2 separate regions of the Homo sapiens genome follow, and region 1 is linked to region 2. Evidence: fine-mapped expression QTL. A gene starts in region 2. The other region holds a variant in brackets. All regions are shown on one strand. Distances are from middle to middle.

Region 1 (12,189 bases), 100 kb after region 2:
ATTTTATTCTATTTCACTCTACGAGTTTCCTAGTTATGTCTCCTTTCTCCTATGTTAATTATCTATATTCCATGACAGTTATTTTCCCTATCTAAAATAAGAACGGTGTAACTATGGAGTACCCCAACTCACATACACATACTTGTGCACCCTTAGACTCATGTATGGATAATCTGTGTAAAGCGCTCATTTGCAATTGGGTGAGCTCACTGAAAGCAGCCATATCAGTCTTCCAAATACAGTAAAAGCCAACGAAAATCCATATCAACTGTTTATTTCTAATATGAAACAGTAAACCTTGTCCATGTGGTAATTAATTCAAATGCCTTTTGTGTTTTCTTGTGAAGTCATCCAAAGCAAAAGTCTAGATGACTGCTGACATGATATGCATAATCTAATGAACTCACATCTCTGTTTATTTTGCTCATCCCACAGTTGAATGACACACTGACTGCTGAGACACTTGGGTTGATTTAGAACGGCTATTAATGAATCTATAAATTTGGCTAAGGTTGATTTGACTTTCTAGGGAAAAGCCAGCCTATCTTCAAATGGACAGCTCCCTCCACATAAACGTCAATGTACCCTAAAGACAAAACTAAGTATATGTATATACGGGATATATACATATATATGTACACATAAAATGGATTGGGAAGTCCTTTGGTTTAGACAGTATTAAATATGTACTTCCCAAGTGCATAGGTTTCCTTTGACCAACCTGTTCAAAAAACAAGCATGAAAAGTGCCATGGCACATTTCCCATGTCTTTCCCCCTATTTGAAGGACACCTTTCCTTGCTTCTCCATCACTCCTAAGCATTTTATTTTTAAAAGAAGCTGGTTATTTTGGCCTTCTATCTTAACACTCCATTGATTCATCCATTCCTTGGAAGAGCTCTCAGATTACATCCAGAAACTTGTTTTTAGAGGAGAACAAGGTTGCAAATAACTTTTTCCTCTTTTTTTATTCCCTCTTCCCCCCAAGAAGCAGGCACCTTGAAGTGTCATGAATAATGCACTCTTGATCTGACTTGCCTTGTTACCCCTGGCCAGCCCAAGCAGCTGAGGTCTGAGCTTTACTTGCCCTGCATCATTGTGCAATACTGGAAAAGAAAAATAATCCACTGGTCTATACCCCTCATACTGTGGTGACGTGATCCGGGTTCTCTTGAATTTCTATGCATTCAATTTCCTCTCTCTCCTTTCGCTTGGCACGTTTCTTTTTCTTGTGGTGCTTTTTGGAAGGGGGGAAAAACGTTAGGAACACAGGTAAAATAACAAAACAGTGCAGAAGTGTGCAACCCCCAGTGAGCAGCAAGCATTTGAACAGTGTGAAGGTCAGGTTCGAAGGCACAAATAGAAGGGGGACTAACCCAATAAGAAAAGAAGTAACATTTTGCAAAATGGCTGTCCCATGGTCTTGCAAGGAGCTTTTTATACATTGTGTTCGGGTGTGCTCAGTTGCTAATACAAATGTGAAAAGCAGTGGTGCACAGTGGTCAATGGCGAAATTCAAGGTGTAGATAAGGCACAAGATAGAAATGCAATCCATGTCGACGTTCCATAATGTCATTAAGCCCAGAACGCCCAGCTCAATTGAGGTGACGCTAAGAATTAGCCAGAAGTTTCCCAGAGGGTGGATCACTAGGAAAAAAGTCAGGATTAACACCAGGAGAACACCAAAGCCTGCAATCAGAACAGGCACTGTGACAGACAAGCTGTAATGGTCCATGAAGACAAAGGAGGGGTTGAACACGATGAATCGGATGCTCTTTGAGAGGGATAGGGGCCTCAGCTTTTCCAACACTTCTGTGATTTCTTTCTGCTTGTCTCTGCTAGTCCTGGCCACCAGATACAAGCGAGAAGCAATGATATTGCTTTCATCCCCTGCCTTGGAGAAGATGATATCATTTCGAAAATGCTGGAATTCTGGCTTTTTTAAAAATGAGCTTTGCAGGACACTGATGAAGTCACTTTTGTTATTGGCACTGACGTTGCTGACTTTCAGGAACTGGTAGTACTGCTCCACCCAGGACACTGCAGTGAATCCACTACAGAGTCTTCTTAGGTCATCCTGGACGCTGCTGTTCCAGTACTCTAGGGGCTCATAGACGTAGAATCCTATCACAGGGCTATAGTTGCTGAAATATTTCTGCTGAACCATGGCATAGGAAACACTTGGCGAATCACTGGCTAGTAGATTGATGATGTTGGCTCCGTCACTGATCTGTAAGCACCCCATGAAGGAGAAGGAGGCATAAATGAGATAGAGGATGACAACAAATGGCTTCACATATATATTGGTAATCCATTCATTATAATGTTCACGGAGGAAGTGCTGAATGAAGTGGTGCTGGTAGGGGTTCGTCTCATGATGGGACGTCTGTTGATGCCCATCACTCATCACTGTCTGGAACCACACAGGTTTGCGATCCAGGTATTCTGCAGAAGGGATCTTACAGCAAAAGATGCTGTGGTAGCGGTTTTGCTCTAGTTGGCCAGCAAAGACCAGACAGGAGCCAAAGAAGGAGAAAATGTAGAAGTAGTTCAACAGAATAGAGACACACATGTTTTGACAGAAGACCTTCACAGCCTCTATGTTTGTGAATGGGCTGGCACCCATGCCAAAAGTGATGAAGTACAGGGAGCTGGTCATGGTATAGGTGACCATCACATCAGAATAGGCATCTGCTATCCTGTCTTTGAAGGGCAAGTTCTCTTTGGTTCTCCGCCATCCGGACAGAAGCTCAAACACTCCTTTAGTTCCATGACCTAATGTTTTAAAAAAAGAAAATAATAATTATTTTTATTTCCTCCTATGGCTCAAGTGAATTCCTTATAGTTTATCTATGCTAAATGGCACTTTATACTCTAATCTTCAAAGGGCTGTGATCCTCCTATCAGGGCCTCAAAAGTTGAGTTATGGACAGGATACATTTGGTCCCTGTTTCACTTTAGCAAAGCCCAAATTTATTGATATTCTGGGAAAAATGAAACATGTATTGTCTGTTCTATCAATGTGACAAGTTGTAAATATAATGTTACGTTATTACATGATGTTTTTCCCCTGAACACATATTGTCTTCCTAAATAGACAGTTTTGTCAACGGCAGGGGCCGTTATTTGTGCGCCTTCAAATGACCCTTAACATCATGTCAAGTGCTTGGTTAACTGATTCATTGACTGACAGTTCCTAACTTTTGTTTCAAGCTGATTTATATGCTGATTTAGGAAATTATAAAAGTATGTTAAACACTTAAAAATGGCTCTAAACTGATTTTATAATGTTGATAATCTCCTTGGTGGCCAAATGGCTTAGAAACCAATTTCCAAAGAGTTGATTAATTAGCTCCGGATGTGAGTTTTTAAAAAAAAAATCTGCCACGTCACATAAAAGACAGGGCAAGACCTTCGGGGTGAAAAATCTTAGCAAGCACTTCCTTTGGGCTCCTCATAGAGCTCTGATTCACGTGAGATGGATGCTGACTAAATGCTTTTGACTGCTTCGTTAAAGTGAATGAAGAATACTTGTTTTAAACCAATGTTTGTGTCCCTTTTGATAAGAGTAAGTAGGCAAAAGGCTTAGTCAACACATATTACTTGAACACCCAGTGTATGCCAGACTCTGGTAGCTACTGAGCTGTAATTTTGAGGAATTTCATAGCTCTTAAGATACTACCACTTTTTTACTAGCAAAAGGAGAAAGCAGCTGAGTAAACAAAGGTATTATACTATATCTGCAATTTCCCCTTTTTTCACTTCCCTGAATTGGACCTGTCAATGACCATCCATAATATATCAATTGGTAGCTTTCTGAGTGAGTGGAAATCTTCATAGATCACTCTTGCCCTTGTGGGCATAGCAATACTACATAGGAACCTTTTCTGTGAATGGATACAAGCTGTGCTTGGGCTGTTCTCCAAGGAATCCATTAGACAAAGACATAGCTGAAAGGCACAAAATCAACTAGTTTATGAAAACCTGGAAAAAGGACTTAAATGTGGCACTTAGATATTGGAGTTAGGTGTTACAAACTTAATTTACTTAGTAGTGCTTTAACAAAGATGTGATAGCTGGGGTCTTACTGCAATTGCTCTGAAATTGCATTGCCGATAGCTTTTGCTAACTGACCTGTATAATTCCTCCCTTTCTTTTATTTGAGACTACAATGTACATACTTGAAAATATTATTTCCCAGCCTAGTTTTCAACTAGAGGTGTTTCATGTGACATAGTTCTGGACAATGCAATGTAACTGAAGGTCATCTAAGGATGCTTGTTAGAAAACCAGAGGGCATTTTGTTTGAAATAGTATAATGAAGCCACTGGGATGAGATCTTGTCTGCCTCCTTTTGGAATTCTCTTCTAAGAAAACCAAATCTTGGCTAAGCCATTGTAGGTAACGCTGTTACTTGCAGCTGAATCCATTCCTAACCAACAATGTTTCCTAGGTCAGTTAACATTTACCAAAACCTCTTTTAAGATGATCTAAGAATTCTTGCTTCATAGTTAATTTGACTATAGTATTTACAGACTTAAATGTATATAATGCAAATATTTGATTTTTAAAGACACATTGGCCAAACTTTTGGTAGTTTTTATCAATTATTAATAGCTACTAAAGGAAGCTAGGCATTGGAATTCTTTTTACCGCTAATGTAAAGCCTATTTATTCTTCAAAGCTGTCTCTTACGGGTCTCCAATCAGGAAAGATGAGTTTATCATAACAAGTAGAAAGGTTCGTGTAAACTGCATTTAGGAAAAGGCACGTTTTTTTCATTTGGAGGTCATGAACTGTTCCTTCTTGCATTTTATCAGGAGCTCAACATATGTGTATTACATTTAGTCTAATGATTCTTAACAATGTTAATTGTTCATTCCTATCTTCGGCAAAACTCCTTGAAGAGACAGAATACAGTACTTGCTCTATTATTCCCTTGACTAAAATACAATGTTAGAATAAGGGTTAAGGTAATTAAAATAATTCTTTAATGAGAGCATCTCTCTTCAGAAATGAGGACTCCTGCTATCTTTGTAGTCACAAGGTGGGGAAAGGCTACATAGAGCTACAGCTAAATTTGGCTTGCCTTTGATAGTGGTCATTTTTATGGAACATTAGGTACACTATGTAGGCCAGATTTTTGCTTTATGTAGTACAAAGGCCTGTAGGTGTAGGAAGATGATACTAAACCATATTAGATTAGGTAATCACTTTAAATGTGGTCGAGACTGAAAATACAATTTCCAAACTTTGTTTGGAGATGGCGTGTTTTATCCCACTCATATGTTTAGATATTTTATAGGATTTTCCTACTGATATTCACTCATTTGACTGTCACAATAATCTGCCCATTTTCTAGCAGTTCAAATGTATTGCCTGCTCCAGTCAAGGTAACTCTTTCACTGCCCTGTGTGCATGTTCCTCATTAGTCTTATCTTCTTAGCTTTGTTTATGTTATTTTCTGTCCCTTAAAATACTTTCCTCAATTCTGGTCATATTAAAATTCTATTCATTGGTCTGTTAAGGGTCAGTTAAAGTCTCCTATTTGCTATGAATCCATTTCTAATGATTCCAGTGATATATATATATATATTCCTTAAATTTTTATTGCCCTAACTAGTCACTCATTTTGGCCCACAACCATGTGCTGTTTTGCTCTGGAATTAAATGGTTTTCTCAAGATATGTTCTATCTCTTGGTTGGATTGCAAATTCTTCATGGCTAGGGAATGCATTTTATCTTACTTTTATACTCTGCAGGACATCTGGTAAAGTGATAGATGCCCAAAAGATGCCCATTAACTTCTTTTTGAATTAAATAAACTATAATTCTTGATTCTAGATGGGTCCAAAAATAGATCTTTTTATTACTTATTCTAAAATTTATTATACATCTTTGTACCTATATAAATATCGATTGTATCCAGAAGAGCTATATACTATTTACTTTCATTCAATGCAATATATATTTATTTAGAGTTTGTTATATAATAACTTTTGCTAGCCGATATATAAGATATAAGGGTAAACAAGGAACACAATCTTTTTCAACAACTGTCCAGAAAGT[C/A]ATTTTCACTTAAGTAATTCTGAGACCAAGATTATAGCTTCTAATGCAACTGCTTTAAAAATAGGGATATATACCTAAAAAATTATATTGGCACTTGTAACAAAGCCATCAATACTTCTCTAAAAATAAAGAAGCAAGAGCATGAATAAAGAAGAGAATATGTCAGAGTGAGTTTTCTTTTTGTAGATGTTACTTCTATTGTCGTATAATGAGAAAATATACTACTGTGAAAACAGCATAATTATTTATTTTAAGTTCCTGCTAATGCATTTAGAATGTCTATATTTATTAAAATGCTAGATATTACTAGGATTTTAGACTTTAAAATAACTTTAATTAATTAATATGAAATAACTGTGTATAGTATCAATGGAATTAATTGTATGGAGAGATAAAAGTTTAATAAAAGTTTTATTTGTTTAATCCAGGGTTTCCCAACTGGGCACTATTGACACTTTGGGCTGGATAATTCTTTATTGTCGGGGACTGTCATGAACTTTGGAGGATGTTTAGCACCATTCCACTACCCACTAGATGCCAGATGCACACCCCACAGTTATAACAACCAAATATTTCTTCAGACATTGTCAAATGTTGCCTGTGGGGCAAATTTGGCTTCAATTGAAAATTATTGGTTTAGTCAAAAGAAAAAGAAATAATATACTCACTCATACACACACATACTTAATTATCTGTTTCTGATTATAAAATCAGGATACATTTCCATGGAAAATTTGGGAAAGATGAAAAATAGTGGTGAAACAAATTATTCCAGAATCCCGTAACACAGAAAACTGCTGTTAACAACTTCAAGAATTTATTCCAGTCATTTGTTTATTTATCTTCCAAGCTTATGTATGTATGTGTGTGTGTGTGTGTGTGTATGTATGTATGTATATATTCATTTATGTATCTACCCATCTGTTCAGATAGGTAACTACCTATATAACTAATTCAAAGAACTGGATTGCTACCAACCAAAAATTAGAATTTAGGATTACTCTTGCAACTCTGTCCAGATGCCAATCAACCATGGAGAGTCTGTTTTCCAATTTCTGCAGTGTTTTCTGTCTTTGTTTCTTACTTTTCACTTTGGTTTCCATTCTGAGGCTGGAACCATTTTTCGAGCATCTGCTCTCTTGAAAGAAGCCCCAATTTTCTCTTTAGCTTTTTCTAATAGTATTTTATTCCCTGCAGTTCCACCCTTACTCAGAGATTCTTAATCCAATTCAAGTAATCCACCTCAAACTGATGCACCAGTGTCCACCCCAAAGACACTGGTGGCCCACCAATTCAGGTGATGCATGGATCACATATAAATGTGACATGCCCCACTGAATGATGATTGGAACTACATTATATTATTTCCCAGTACCCAGTCCTAACTGTTCTTTGAGTCTGTCCCATTTTCCCACCAAAATCTTTAATTCTCACCTGAGGCCACTGCTTGTTTTAAGAACAACTCCATTCAAGTTCTGGACTTGTTTTACATGCAGTTACCTAATATATAAAGAGGAATTTTGTTCTTACTAAGTAGGGCTGTATGCTGTGTACCATGAAAATGCGGCTGATTCTTCCTGAGGGATCAGGGAAAGCTTCAAAAGGTTTAGGCAGAGGATGATGTTAATGACAGTTTAGGCTGATGGGATAACATGAATAGAGACAAAAACCCCTGTAAACTATGAAGAGGTAGTTGTGTGTTTAAAGTTTATAATTGTTATTTTTTTTCCCTCAGTAGAGATTAGCTCACTGCTATAGCGAGCTGGTATACTATTGTCCACAGTATATTTTTGATTTATGTTCCAAAATCTGACTGCCACACTTTGGTCATGATTTCCCTGAATTACATTAGTATATATTTGCACACTGCATTAGATTAATATAATAAGTAACTCACTCGGGACATTATTAGATGACTAATATTTCCTTTAGCACAGTTTTTTGAAATAAAAGAGAGAGTTCTTAAGGGTAAAAAAGAGTTGGACAGAGGAAAAACTGGGAGAAAAATTCAAGGAGGGAGATGAATAGAAATAATAAGGGGGTGTGTGTGTGTATTGAGTACTCCACAAGTCTGATGGGATGCTGATGGGGAGCTCTCTTTCCAAATGAAAGCAATTAGAAGCATGGTGTAACAATAAGGAAAACCTACATGGCAGCTTGCTAACATGCCCCCATTTAACAATGATTTGGTAAGTTCTGCTATTTGCAATTGAGCCACATGAAAAAGATAAAGATCATGAAGGTTCTTCATGGTCATGGTCGTGCAGGTCTGCCAGAGTGAATATTTAAGTGTTTTTAAATTAAAAAAAAATTATTGTTACCAAACAAAACTGATACCAGTCCTCAGTGAGGTGGGGAGCACTCAGAACTGGTTATAATTCCGTTTGAGCTTCTAGTAATCATTCTCCAACAAATAAAGATGACTTCTAAAGTAAGATGGTTCTTCTCTGAGAAACAGCTCCAGCCTTCCTTTAAGAACATTTTTTCCAAACTCCTACTCTTCTAATGTAAGCTTCCATATTGTAATTGCATCTAACATTGCTGTAGGAAAACTCTCTGGTGACGTAGTTAGGCCTAAAGAGAAGTTTTTCTTTTTTCTTTTTTTTGAGACGGAGTCTCACTCTTTCACCCAGGCCATAGTGCGGTGGCGAGATCTCAGCTCCCTGCTACCTCTGCCTCCCGGGTTCAAGTAATTCTCCAGCCTTAGCCTCCTGAGTAACTGAGATTACAGGCACCTGCCACCACACCTGGCTGATTTTTGTATTTTCAGTAGAGATGGGTTTTGCCACATTGGCCAGGCTGGTCTCAAACTCCCGACCTCAAGTAATCTGCCCGCCTCGGCCTCCCAAAGTGCTGGGATTATAGGCGCGAGCCACGGCGATGGCAAGATTTTTTTTTTTTTTTTTCCCAGAGCAATGTTGTTCTATAAATCCAATATCATTTTTACAGTTGCCATTTTAATCCTACACTCAATCTCTCCAAAACCTACAATTCCAAAGAAAATACTTTTAACGAGGATGAAATTCAATTGGAACTAATTGTAACTGACTCAATTAATGCTCTCTACTGAGTTTTTCTTTGCTATGTTGCTTTAATAAGCATGATCTGTGGGTTTCTAGTTTATTTTAATCAGCAGAATTAGAATTCTCATTTGCCTTCAGAAGACATACTGGTGGGTTTTCCTTTTCACTTGAACATGCTAATCAAGATATGAAAGCTTGACACCGATATGAGAGACGTAAGAAATAGAGGTTAAAAAAAAATACTCCTTTTTATGACCTGTTCCAAAGAAAGCTTACTACTTTCCCTTAGAAGTTATTTCTTCATTTGGTTAGCTACACTTTCAATAATTGTGTTTGTGAAAATCACCCCCGATCGTGACATCCCAATGCCAACTAAATGAATGAATAATGAATAAAAAAAATAAAACCACAATCAACTGAAAACTCAGTCCAGCAAAGCAGATGCAAAAAAGTCTGGATAATACATCAGTATTTTAAGTTATTGTTCACTTCTTTGGCATTATGTGGGATCATTTATCCATTGTTCCTTCTCTTTAGCTGGCTGATTCCTACTTAGCATGTTCTCAAGCATAATCTCACCACTCGAACATGCGTGATCTCTAACACTTTCCGCTTGCCCTACTCACCCGCATTCCACCAACTTAGACATCTCTGCCCTGTATTCCAACCCAAATCACAGTACTTACTATACGCTAGACTGAGATTGCCCGTTGGTGGGCCCATCTTTTAGCCAGTCCAGAAACTCTTCACTGGCCAGGTTAGGCACTTGCCTTTTTCACTTTTGTATATTAATTATTGGCTTATGGTAAATGCTCAATAAATGTTTTTAAAACTGAATTGGCCATGATCTACATGTAGAAATTTTAAAGATATTTGAACACATTCTTCTTGTAATAGTTATTATTGTAATGATACTTACTAGATTAACAATAATAGGTATAATCTATATAAATATATTAATTTATATTTAATATATTTTATGTAATTTACTCTATACATTTTTAATAGAATTATTTTATATAACTTATAAAATTTATTGAGGAATTAAATATAAATTATAACTTTAATAATAATAAATGTTACTATTTATCATTAGTTCTTACAATAATTATTATTAACAGCCCTATATTCAGCAATGGGTTTTGTGAAATAGATATTATTTGCCTCATTTTACTGAGAAGGAAACTTGCTGAGTGTCACCCAGTGATTCTGAATTTTTCTCCCATTTCCTCCTCTGTTCAGTTCACATTGACAGAGGTGGAAATAGATGTCAATTATACCTAATTGGGAAATTAGCATATTATTCATTAATTTGGCTGGTTCAGGATTATGGATATCTAACAGAGAATGGAATATGAAATGAAATTACTTGTTCTATGTTGTTCTTTGACAGGGTAGAAACAGGTTCATAAGACACTCCTTTTGCCTGAGAGATGATGAACTCTTTAGATATTTTCTAATCCCCATAATGTCTAGTCTTGAGGTGATGATCAGTGTGTATTTGTATACTGACTGCTTCTAATTTAGTATCATCTAAAGTAAATAGATGATTATCAAGCCCCAAAGGTTGCTCAATTTATACAATGGCCAAAGCTTCTACCTCTTGGTTCTTATATAGCCCACAAAGGGTAGGGGGTGTTTAACAGGAATTCTCTAAGCTGCTACTGCCAGGGACATGTATGATGGTTTTACCTGGAAACCTTTGATAATGTTGTTCAATGAGGGAGGGCCTCGCTTTATCTTGTCCTTAAGCAAGAAGTGACTTCACTTGAAATATTCCCATCCCAGTACAGAATGAGTCAGAGTAAAGAGCAGAGAGTAGGGACGGGCATGGTGGATCAAGCCTGTAATCCCAGTACTTTGGGAGGCCGAGGCAGGTGGATCACAAGGTGAGGAGATCGAGACCATCCTGGCTAACATGGTGAAACCCCGTCTCTACTAAAAATACAAAAAATTAGCCGGGTGTGGTGGTGGGCGCCTATAGTCCCAGCTACTTGGGAGGCTGAGGCAGGAGAATGGGGTGAACCCGAGAGGCGGAGCTTGCAGTGAGCCAAGATAGCGCCACTGCACTCCAGCCTGGGCGACAGCGCGAGACTCAGTCCCCAAAAAAAAGAGTAGATGGGAAAAGGAGCAGAATATTGCAAAGAAAAGAGGAAATAATTATGAGCATGAACAGACACTCAGTCCTTAGCACTCAGGAGGTTACAGGATTTTATTAGGTCTCTAATAAGAAAAAATAAAACTTAGTAGCAGATTCTCATTGTATAATTTTCAGAGCAGTTGTATATTTTATATATATATCTTAGTGTATAGATAAAAGACATATAGTCTCATCCAGAGTTTGCATTCAGTCATTTTGACAATTTATTTTGTAGTTTTTTGTTTGTTTGTTTGTTTTTGTTTTTGTTTTATTATTATTATACTTTAAGTTTTAGGGTACATGTGCACATTGTGCAGGTTAGATACATATGTATACATGTGCCATGCTGGTGCACTGCACCCACTAACTCGTCATCTAGCATTAGGTATATCTCCCAATGCTATCCCTCTCCCCTCCCCCCACCCCACAACAGTCCCCAGAGTGTGATATTCCCCTTCCTGTGTCCATGTGATCTCATTGTTCAATTCCCACCTATGAGTGAGAATATGCGGTGTTTGGTTTTTTGTTCTTGCGATAGTTTACTGAGAATGATGATTTCCAATTTCATCCATGTCCCTACAAAGGACATGAACTCATCATTTTTTATGGCTGCATAGTATTCCATGGTGTATATGTGCCACATTTTCTTAATCCAGTCTATCATTGTTGGACATTTGGGTTGGTTCCAAGTCTTTGCTATTGTGAATAATGCCGCAATAAACATACGTGTGCATGTGTCTTTATAGCAGCATGATTTATAGTCCTTTGGGTGTATACCCAGTAATGGGATGGCTGGGTCAAATGGTATTTCCAGTTCTAGATCCCTGAGGAATCGCCACACTGACTTCCACAATGGTTGAACTAGTTTACAGTCCCACCAACAGTGTAAAAGTGTTCCTATTTCTCCACATCCTCTCCAGCACCTGTTGTTTCCTGACTTTTTAATGATTGCCATTCT
Region 2 (12,189 bases):
AGGTGTTTAGCCACTTTGTTCCTCACAGTTTTTTTTTGTAAACTTGTATATTTCCTTTTGATGAGGAATAAACAGATCCTATTGTTGAAAATTCTGCATGTTTCATGTTGATTATTATTATTACTGAGGGCAACTTAATAATTATAAATCATCGCTAACATGATCTGTATGGATATAGGAGCTCAGAGCTGGAGTGTTTGAATTTGAGATGTAAATTAGGGGATTTATTGCCCTTTTCTCAAACATTACTATTATTATTGTCCAAGTTTCTTTTTATACTCTTGAGGGCTGAGGAGGAAATAAATTGCCTACAATAAATAAAATGTCCAAAGATGCTTCCAACTTGAGAAGGATTTGCAGGTCTGTTATTCCTTGGTGATGCTGTGGGGAATTCTGTGGTTCCGGTTTCATTTCTGGGGTTTATGGTTTCCCGCATGTTTCTGGGCCAGTGTTTAGATCAGGTGGCCCCTTTCATTATCAGCAGAGGGTTGGGTTACTTGATTGCTTTGCTAAGAAGGACTTTTGGATGTAGGCAATGTCCCCTGGGAGATAAATAGAAGAATGGACACCATGCCAGGAGGTGGGCAACCTTGTCTAGTACTTGAGTAGGAAGCGCCTCTTATTCTGAGAAAGAGAAATATTGAGGCCCGGAAATTACAATAGTAATTGTTATATAAAAATTTACACCTCATCCCTTTTGCTTGAGAGACTTGGGTTGGAGAGAGTGTGGGCATAAACTAATTTGAAACTTACTATTCAGAAGCTGGATAAAATAGTAGTCATTACATGACAGTTGACACTTTAAATATTATCAATCTAAGAAAATGTTAGAGCAGGTCTGTCTATTTCTCATAATTCTCCTATTACCTTAGATTTGTCAATTGGTTTCAAGCTGAACCGGTTAGGAATAAATTGGCATGGAGGTTGTTATTTTCAACAGACAACTCTGCCCGCTCTTTACAAGGCTTACAAAATATTGAATTGAATTGATTGCTCTTTTGCTGGCTTGGTTCTGTAGAGAAAAAGATTCTTGCCTTCCTACTTCCCTTCCTTTCTCCTGCCCTTCTTTTCCATGTTTTCTGCCATATTTTTAGTTAAGTGTGTTGAAAAAAAATACTACTCTTTTATTTTCTTCTCTAGCATCATATTGAACCATGGCAGAAAAAGCCCGAAAAGCGTATGTGCATTTCTGTTTGACAGAAAACCTCAGCTAATTACTAGTTTTCTTTGTGGCTGTGAACATTTCCCCTGTAGAGAAGGCAAGGATCTCATTAGCACTAGCTAATAGGTAAAGGTTACCCCTCTGGAGACCTGGATTGGGGTATTTGAGACCCCAATCTATTGATTTTATTTCTTGATTGCTACTTTGCATGTCAAGGTGCTTTCAGGTTTTTCTTTTCATGTATAAAAGAAAAACACTATATTCTTATATAATAGATGTAAAAATAATCCAAATCTTTTCACTGGAATACAGAATTGATCTATGACATATCACTATTGGTATCATTATGGCTTATTGCATGTTAAGCACATATAGATGCTGACACAGAAAAAAAATAATTATGAAGAGCACAGCTTAAATTTTTTGAATTTATAGAATACTTCATGAGCAAGAAGAGACACAATTACTAGGAAGAAAATCCTTAAGGTGTGACCTCTGGCTGACACACATCCAAGGCAGTGCTGGCACATGCTTAGAGCACAGATGTGAGCTGCTTACCTATGTGGGGAGACTTCAGGGCTGTGAGTAGGTCTTTCGCAGAAAAACCTTCAATTTCAGCTTCTGTAAGGCATCTCATTAATGGCAAATTTCCAAGGGAAGTAATTTATAGACTGAGTAGGCGCCTGCACATAATCCGTGGTAAATAAATATATGAATGAATAAATGGATGGGTGTAGCAATTTCACTAATGTTATAATTTGTAACAAATTCTTTATTAAAAATATAGACAATATTGCAAAATTAGTATGCCATTTTTAAACAATTAAAAAAGTGGCTATATTACCAAGTATCCTCACTCTCCAAATAAAAAGTAAAGAAAGAATTACTCCTAACATCATTATACATCATAACCATGCTAACACTATACATAATAAAAATATATTTTAACACTTTGGCATATATATTTCTAGGTATCTTTCTCTATAGTTTTCTCTCGCTTAAAAATGCTTCATAACTCTTTGATAATTAGTGTTTTTCCATAAAATGTATTATAAATGTCATACCATGTCAACAAGATTTATCAATTCCATTTTTTTAGAGAAGATTTTGATAGGAAAGGAAAGGGGAGGTGCTTGAAACCACTGTGGTGCTCAAATGGGGAGGTCAAATCCGAAGGTCGATAGAGACAGGAGAGAGGCTAGCATGCAGAAGGAGTAACGGAAGAAAACTGACTGGTCTCCAGTGTGGTTGTCCCTGGACGACTGGGAAAACTTGCTGGTCTTCATTGTGGTCGTCCCTGCACACAATCATGGCCCATGCCAGCTGGCTCGCTGGGGTTGAGTGAAAGAAGCTTAGTCCTGAATTGTTGGTCCCTTATCATAAGACACCAGCCTAGAGGCTGGCACAAATTTCTGAAGTTGGTATAAAAATGAATCTGACCACAAATCCTTTTTCCTGTAGGCTTATTGTGGGTAATCCTTTTGAACAGTAGTGGAAATGGGCAATCACCCACTTGTTAAAGACCTGTGTAAACCAGCTAAAGGATTTCTGAATTTTTAATAAACTATGTTTCCTTACTTACATTTTATCAGGCTTAACACTGAGCACATTTTACCTCGAGATATTGAATATTATCTGCTTACCTTTCTTGGACATCTCTCTAGTTCGTGGGTGTTTCTTTGTTAACTTCCTGAACATTTCCTGGCCTTCGATGTTTGTTTCCAACTTACTCTGCACCATCTTACACCTATTTTGAGGTCTGCTGGCTTCTACTAGGTTTCAAGTAACTAATTTCAGAAACTACTTTATGTTGAAGTTTTCATGGATTCCGGTAGATTCAAATTTCATGTTCTCAGATAGTATATCCCTAGAAAGAAATTTCGTGGTGATGATGCTTCAGGCAAAAAATGGCAAAAGTTTCAGAAGCCAGAGCAGGCCAGTGGAGAAGACCATTTTGGGCAGGTCACTTTCACCTTGCATAAGTGGCTCTCCACACTGCCCATGCTTTTTGGTATTTCCTGCATTAAACCAGGGAAAATTTAGCAGGTCAAGGGGAAATTTATTGCCAAATATTTTTTGAAGATAATTTTAAGACTAGATAGAGTCTAACAGAGTTGGACTCTGTTTCTTGGTACGAACTTGTGTTTATTTCCTGTTAGGAGGGGAACCTGTGCCATTCTCTCTTCCGTATTTGCTTATACCTATTTGTAAGTCCATTCAATTTGGACATGAGGACTTCTGGCTACATCTAAAGATATTCTTTAATTTTTCATTGTGGAATAATACAGGATTTTAAATGGCTAATTCTGGTAACTCAAAAGATATTTAAAACTTTTATGGGTGATGAAGAGTGGAGATGTTTTCAGCTTTTTCCATAATAAGCTGTTATGAGAACAGTCTTAGGAAGATTTATTCATGGTCCAAAAGACCATTGATTAGCAGATGTGAGAGCAGTGGAGTATATTTTATGGCTTAAAGGATTATGCTAACATGAATAATCACATACAACTTACTCCAAGAAGTTTCATTTATATCTTTCACAGAATCATAAATTCAGCAGAAATTTTGACAAGTCATTTAGTTTCTCCTCCACTTTTAAACAGGATACTTTCCTCCAACCCCCATATGTTGTTTCCCAAGCAATAGTGCCATGAAATATTGTGCAAGAAAGGCAAGCTTCCATGGTTACAAAATTCGACAAACTGATCCTCTTGGAAATAATATCATAGACCCTGGAAGTTGTACCCAGACTACAGTACCTAAAGAATAGCTACAATACAAAATACAACAATAACAATATACAAAAAATAAAAAATAAGTACATAAGAGATTCAGATATGCAGCTGATTGGGAACCATTGGTTTGATCATAGGATGCCATCCCAGGGAACTGGGGGATGTGGTGTTGAGGGCCCTGACCACCTGGGAAGGTAGATAGGACAGCATCTATCTACTATGGGCGGTAGGCAATCTTCAAATACAGGAGGTAAAAGAGGGAAGGAATCGACAAATGACTATTTTATTTACACAATGAGGTAATTCAGGCACATTCAATACTGAAAAAGAAACTCTCTAAAACATATCTCTGAACAAATTCAGTCATGACTATGTGTTGCATTTATTATTTTAAGTAGTACAGTTAGTGTTCTGCAAAAATATTTATGATGGTTGCATTGCTATAGCCTGTTTTCAGCAAAAAGTATAATTCTGTATCAATGATGAAATAGCACCTCAACAAAATAATGATAATGATCCCATACTATGCACTGGTACCTCTAATTTCTTTATGAACTGAAAGTTATTTTACTCATGTGTAGGTAAACCAGAGGAAGAATTAGGTAAATTAAGTGGATTAATTTCTCCTAGGAGTATTTTAGTAGTGACTGAAGGAGCCAGTTTTATATTCTGAAGGATGTAGACTTTGGATAAAAGCTTGAAGGTCAAGTGGAATTTGGATAGACTGAGAAGAAATGGAACACAAATTACATATGGGGAAAATAAGTGTAAAGTGTGAAGTTGAAAAATGAGTTTGTAATGTATAAAGAAGAGTGGAAAAAAAAAGAATTCCCAAATAACCATGTATTTAGGATTCTCTGCCTCTTTCTCGCAGTGTTCCTCAGGAAGAGTTGTGTCTAAGTTGTGTCTTTGAAAAGAACTAGAAACTCTCAAACACTGTATTTCCAAACTTAAACAATAGCATTAATTTTGATCAGTGTCAGAAAAAAAATAAGTCCACCTATGATATGTCAAAAGCAACTCTTCTGCCAGGCAGGCAAGGCTCTACAGGACAAGATCCCATTTTACCAAGCCAAGATGGCTACCACTTCTCTCCATGATGAACTCTGTTCCCATGGAACAACTCTTTTTCCATCCCTTATACACTTTATGTTCATTTTTTCCTCCAAATCTTAGCTCATGTCATTTTCTTACTGAAAATATTCTCTACTGTTTTCGTTGCTTATTAAAGCCCCTTGGGGGCTCAAGTGAAGTTTTATGTTATCATTTTCATTATTAACATATCGAGTCTTAGGCTGTGCAAGGCCTGGGTACTTCTCGATATAGGAAGGACACTTCTTGATATTACACACACAGTCTAGTTAATTCCTCAGAAAATAGTATTATTTCCTTGCTTTAAAAATTATTGTCTAGGCCAGGTTCAGTGGCTCACACTTGTAATCCCAGGACTTTGGGAGGCTAAAGTGGGAGGAGCCCTTGACCCCAGGACGGGAGTTTGAGATCAGCCTGGGAACCATAGAGAGATACTGTCTCTACAAATAATAATAATAAAAAAAATTAGCTAGGTGTTGTGGCGTGTGCCATGGTCCCAGCTAGTCGGGAGGCTAAGTTGGGAGGATCACCTGAGCCTAGGAGGTCGAGGATGCAGTGAGCACTGATCACATCGCTGCACTCCAGCCTGGGCAACAGAGTGAGACCCTATCTCAAAAAAATTCTCTAAAACCAAGTAAAGCAGCATTTTATTGTTTTATATTCTTGTATTATTATTATATTTTCTGACCATTAGTTGCATCTTTTCTCTGTCCAGAAAATGATAGATACCCTCCCTAAGTCTAGATAACATGGTAAACCTCTGTTGTCCTACCTCATAATGCTGGGTTTGTAGTAGATGTTCAGTGAATACTTGAGTTAACACACAAGCATCCATTGATTCAGCATGGGACCCTGAGGAAATCTCTTATACAATAGCTATATCTTGATGGATAGGCAAGTTTGGGAAAAGTAAGCATCTCAGCATATAATAAATATACAGGACCCCCCATTCATAATATGCTTTCGAGTCCGATATCCTATTGCTCCTACAACAAGCATGAGTGACAGGTAAGAAGGAGACTGCCCATTTTACAGATGAAGTGGTTGCAGTTCAGAAAGTTTAAATGATTTGCTCAAGATCAGAGGGTGGGTATCACAGCTGGACTCCAACCTTCATCTTATGATTCTGAAGCTAAGGTGGAGGACAGGACTGGACAGCCAGTTGGGCGGGGGCAATCTTTGGGGAGGAGAGAGTTTACCAGAACAAGAGGCAGTCAAAGGGGAATCAGGAGTTTGAAAGGTAAAGATAAACTTTCACCTGGGGTAGGTCTTGGGATGTGGTGCATCTGGCAGCCAAAGATTTCTCCTACAGCTTTCTAACCATCTCAGGGAGAAGGATTTGGAATGAACATTAGCACATGACTGTCCTCAAACTGTGTGTAGGAGACTGTAGTTTCAGCCAACTGGCCACTGAAAGGGTCACTAGCCTTCCTCTGTAAGCTGTAAGTTGGCAGTTAGAAAGGGGTTAAATTCATGTCTTTTGCGAAGGTGAATTACATGGTTAGATATGTGCCGATCACCCTGTCACCGCCTGTGGGGCACACAACTCTGTGTTCCACTTGCTGTCTCATATAATGCCCGAAATTGTTGCCTAGAGAGCTGAACAGTGACATCTGTTGGTTCGATTTGAAATAGGCAAGTTCAAAAGAGAAACAGCCACACTAGTATTTCTTCCCCTTTCAAAACAAATAGGAACAATCATGACAAAGGAATGACCCTTCCAAAGGAAGTTTTAACATCAGCAGCATACTTTATCTGAAGAACAACACACGACTCCAAGTTTCAGGATGAGGGATATCATGTGACTTTTATTTTTGCAGAAAGCCCATCAAAGACTTTGTGTAAACCTTTTAAAACTCCAATTCAAAAGAAACAGTACTAAGACCTGTGTATCTGAGAAATTCCTCAATGCTCAAGATTTCATCCAGAAGCATAAATGAGCAAATAGAAAGTATGGATTTGGGGCAGTGGTGAGAAATAATGAAATTGCTTTCTGCTCTAGGAAACTTGAGAAACAAACCTTCCTGTGGATGTGCCTGTGAGTTACAACCCAGCTTGAATCCTTTCTAAATAGCTCCAAATTTCAAGATCACTTTGACAATCACCTAGCTCTTAGCTTCAATTAATTAAGTGTCCATGTTCCTTTGTACTGAATGCTCTATTTCTTTCCTTACAAAACTCTAAACCTCATTGAATGTACAATGGAAATGATTTTCTGGGAAATCTGGATAATCAAAAAATACTATATTCTGACAAGTTATATATATACATATGTAAATTTTTTATATATTATATATAATTTATATACATAAATTATATATATATAGTGTGTGTGTGTGTATGTGTGCACACTCCATACAATATCATTTCCTGCTCAGACCTTTACAAAAATTGCTAAGAAACAGTAAATTGCACAGTTTGGCCTTCAACCTTTTAATCACCCCAAGGAGAAAAGAAGTGGCTCAAAGAGTAGCATGAGAAAACAGAGGAGAAAATGAAGGCTTGGATAATCTGCCAACCGAATAACTGAGTAATGACATAATTGGATCATTGAAAAAAATGTTAAAATTTTTACCAGTTATTAATTAGAGAATCATGCATGACCCTGGGAACTTGCTTTTTGTTTTAAAACAGGAGCCACGATTATGAAATGGTTCAAGCTGGCTTATTCAGGTCTGCTGAGATCTCTACTGGTTTGCTTTTCAGATCCCTCGTGGTTCGAGAACAGAATGGCGTTAAATCACACTGCCCTGCCTCAGGACGAGCGCCTGCCCCATTACCTTCGAGATGGGGATCCTTTTGCTTCCAAACTTTCTTGGGAAGCGGATTTAGTGGCTGGCTTTTACCTAACAATAATTGGTAAGCTTCCTTAATTCTTCTGTGCAAAGGCTGCATTTAGAAAATTCATGGGCTGATATGTTAATTTTGTGAAAGGATTCTGATACTTAAGTGGATAGTTTAGTGGAGGCGAAGAGTGGGGAAAGGCAGAAGATGGAATGGCATTATGGCATTCAATAAATGTTTCCTAGAAATGACTCTTTATTATCATTATTATTAGGAATAAAATTCCATTGATAATCCAAGAACTCTTACAGCAAAATTATTTATCCATTTCATTTTGGTTACTTTGGGAGTAGATTTACTTTCTGAATACCAAAATTAATGATAATGATATTTTATTTAAACAGAGTGCTTTTTAAATAATGTTTTTGACATAATCATAAGTTTTAGGTTGAGAATGGGCCTTAAAAATAATCTAGGTCAGTCTCCTGTTCTCACAACTGTGCAAAACTCAATTGTGCTATTGTGCTATAGTACTATAGTAATGGCAGAAACACTGAGTTTACTTCACCTAAAAGTAAAGTCGCATCAAAATAGCTAAGCCATTTTGGTGACAGTTGAAAAATGTGTTGGTGATAAATGGAAGAAAGTCCGGGGTCAAAAGATTTTTGTGCATAATTGACGAAAGGGTGCACCTGCTTCTAGACTGCATGATCTCATTCATTCAGTAGCCACATGTGGCTTTTCCAAATTGAAAGTTGCTGTAGTGTAAATACTCACCAGATACTGAAGGCTCAGTACAACAAAAAGTGGTATAAAATATCTCATTAATAATTTTTAAAAATTAAATACATGTTGAACATACAACATTTTAGGTATGTTAAGCTAAATAAAATATATTATTAAAATTAATTTACTGTAAATTTTAAATTTATAAATTAAATTTTTACTTTGTAAATTTTTACTTTGTTTAATGTGGCTACCAGAAAATTTTAGAATCCATATGTGGCTCGCATTTCTGGCTTACATTACATTTATACTGGATAGCACTAATCTAGACAGTTAGGATTTAATTTAACCACCTATTTAAATTTAAGAAAAGAAACCATACTTTTCTTAAATTTAAAATTGTTGTTTTAACTTTGGGTGACCAGTGTGAAGGTGGGTTATGTCTTTAGGTTTGTTTGCCTTTAATTTTTTCAGATGTTGGGTCAAACTTGCTCTCTCTCTCTTTTCTCTTTGTTTCTATCTTTCTCTTCCACCCTTCTTCCCTTCCTCCCTTTCTCTCTTTTTCTCCCTCTCTCATCTATTTATTACTGGCTAAGAATTTCATTTAACCTCCTGAAAGTAGCAAAACTCATTAGAAAATACTTGATATCCCTCTATGGTCAGTACTTGAGGCAAAAGGAACTCATGTGATTCAACCAAATTCTGCTGTAAAGTGATTCCCTGGGTCTTTGTCTTTATTGTTGTTAGTGTTTTACTAGTTTAAATTCTGTTTCTTATAAATGAGTCCCCATCTCTTTTCAACATAAATATATATTGAGCGCCCACTCTTTGCCACTGTTTTAAGTTGCTGGGAATAGAGCAGAGAATAAAATGGGCAAACATTCTGCTGGAACAGAAACTGTCTTATCTCTGTAAAATCCACATTGCATTTTTATTAAACTTAAGTACTTTCAATTAACAGAAAAGGCAGAAAAATAAGCAACTTGATCAATTGTATTTAGCATAGCTCCATCACTTTCAAGGAATGAATTAAAAAAGTAACATCAATAACCTGACAAATCTCTCCAGACAACACAAAACAGAGAGGCCTATCAGTCCATTCCCAATCTTAAGCAGGGAGGATTGCAGGAGGATTGCAACCAGGGTGAGGAAATCAGGAGAATTTCCCACCTGATACACATGGAGTTGGAAGGAAAGTCCACAATCATATTCCAGTGGGTTTGCTGAGATGGAGCCAGAAAAACAGGTTGAAAAAGAGTCCCTGGACAGGGGGAGCTTCAGGAGGATCAGGGCACTAGGAGGTGGAGCCAATGGTATGTTAGAGAACAGTCACGCAGGGTGAGGAGAGGGGTCGACTGGAGGGGTTTGGACTCACCCTAGATCCACTTCTTGGACTTGGCCGTGTGTCTGGTTTTCACTCTCCTAGAATAGGCTAGTGTAGATGTTGCAAGATTCCTTTTTTTTTTGGACATAGAGTCTCACTCTGTCACCCAGGTTGGAGTGCAGTGGTGCGATCTCGGCTCACTGCAACCTCCATCTCCCAAGTTCAAGCAATTCTTGTGCCTCAACCTCCTGAGTAGCTGGGGCTACAGGTGTGCACCACCATGCTTGGCTAATTTTTGTGTTTTTTAGTAGAGACGGGGTTTCGCCATGTTGGCCAGGCTGGTATTGAACTCCTGGCCTCAAGTGATTTGCCCACCTCAGCCTCCCAAAGTGTTGGGATTACAGGCGTGAGCCACCGCGCCTGGCCAAGATGTGTGTGTCCAGATTGCTTTTAAGGAGCCAGAGTGGAATAAACATTCTTGGTGGGCTTTGTTAAATACTAGAAGTCTTAAGAGACAATGGAAAGATAACAATATAAATCTGAGTTTGAAATACAGGAGACATAAATTACAAACCCATTTTCTACCTTCCACACTTTTACTATTATTGTAAATACTGAGTTTATTAACAGTTAATATATATGATATTTTTGTATCCATAAATGATATAGGATTTGATAATCTAAAAGTGTCCCCACTTTGGTCTTTATCTTCTTAATCTGGTTGTCTTTTCAGTAATATTAAGAATAAATTTGCTTTTTCCTGACACTCATCTATAACATATATATATTGCTTGTTAGAATAATTTACATGCAATGAATAGAGAGGTGACTATTTTTTGATAATGCTTTGGGCACTGGGTGAAACCTTATGAAGCAGGGTCAGTAAAGAAAATTTAAGGAAGGAAAAGTAAGAAAACAAATATTTTCAAAAGAGATGTAGACAGATGAAAGGTGTTTCAATGAGCCTTGTGTATCAAACGAAAATGGATACTTGTTTTTACTCTTTTTGGATACAAAGTAGGTGGCATTAAGTTTATACTTTTTCAAGCCACGTTTTCACATTTTGCTTTCCTAGCTGGTTTCCTTGAGTGAGACCTGTTTCATTTTAGTTGGTTTGCTCTGGAACTCCGTAATCTCTTTTATTTTTCTCTTCTTCTGCTTTATGAAAGCTAAAGAGGTTTTAATGGACCATTAAGCAGCACTGACTCCAGGGAGTCAGAATTTCCTAAGAGCACAATGCAGTTAGTTCCTGGTGGTTTCATACCATCAGCTGAATCACACATTTCTTTCTTTGCCCCCAAAATGAATTGTGGTGGAGAAGTAGAAATTAAAATAGAAAACTCTGGGTTTCTCCTGTTAATACTCTCCTTATTCCTTACTACTAAAGGCAGCTGTACCAGATTCTCATTTATACACAGCTACACTATGAAGCAAGAATTCCTGAAGAAATCTACTCTACATGTTAAGCTATGGAAGTAGGTGTATTCTTTTCTTAAATAAAGTCAGTAGGGATTGGGTCTTTTTGGATTTAAACTGGGTTTGTAAGAACTTTCGAACAGTTTCATTGTAATGCCAAAGGCAACTAGTCATTAATAAAAGGATATGAAAAAGTGGGAACACACTTATGGCATTGTTGGTAGGTTCGGTGGGTTGAGGGTCACTTTCTCTCCCCTTGGTGGGAGGGACAGTGCCCAGGTTCTCGATTGTCACCCACTTACCCTTGATATCTAGTCCAGTAGCAGCTGAAGGCTGTCCTATCTGCCAGACACTCAGTGTCCATGTCTCCCAAAGAGGCGGAAGTCCTGGGGCGTCTCTGGGAGATGTCCATTTTCTTGAAGGGAGTTATGCCAGTCATACCTGGCCTCTGCCTCTCCTGAACACTGGTGCTCCCTTAGGAGTTGACAGTGATACTGAAGGCACCTTCTTTGGTTGGCTTCATCTTCAGAATTTATCAAGAGCTAAGGGTTTAACCCTACTGATCAGAGGGAGGGAGTTCTATAAAGCCAATAATCTATAAAAATGGCTGAGGAAAGTACTCCACTCTGGGGGCCAGGACAAGAACTGACCATTGGGATTCCCACACTTTCCTGAGCCTCGCGGGGAAGTTAGCGATGCCTTTTTCTGGGTAAGTTCAGTCTTATAATCCCTGACTCCTGCCCCATTGGCCTGTCACTCACAACTCATGCTTTTTATTTCATCTTCTTAATTTAGATTTTTTTATTTAGAGTCCTCTCACTACCCTCTAAATCTATGGTGTCCATTTTTGAAGTTGAGAAGTGTTTCATATCTGAGTGAACTCGAAATCTTAGTTTTAACGATTGGAATTTTTATTTTTCCTTGTAGGGATTCTGTCCACATTTGGAAAT

Which allele goes with the higher level. Alleles are on the strand shown, and positions count from the first base shown. SD is a standard deviation of normalised expression in the study named.
With allele A in place of C in region 1, the expression in prefrontal cortex of the gene that starts at base 7,684 in region 2 is higher (moderate effect, 0.74 SD a copy in CommonMind).

What was found. PIP is the estimated chance that this variant, and not a neighbour inherited with it, causes the effect.
Region 1: its variant is the best candidate, but not a certain one, in a credible set for the expression of OPN5 in prefrontal cortex (CommonMind, PIP 0.58).

The regions. Positions count from the first base shown.
Region 1 is chr6:47,877,163-47,889,351 of GRCh38, forward strand. It overlaps PTCHD4 (patched domain containing 4), which reads right to left. Exons shown (of 5, transcript NM_001384253.1): 5 at 1-2,774. The coding sequence ends at 1,141. Among named protein-coding and RNA genes, the nearest start is that of OPN5, 100 kb to the left of the region's middle. The variant C/A (reference allele first, on the strand shown) is at 6,069.
Region 2 is chr6:47,774,349-47,786,537 of GRCh38, forward strand. It overlaps OPN5 (opsin 5), which reads left to right and starts at 7,684. Exons shown (of 7, transcript NM_181744.4): 1 at 7,684-7,848; 2 at 12,167-12,189. The coding sequence starts at 7,719.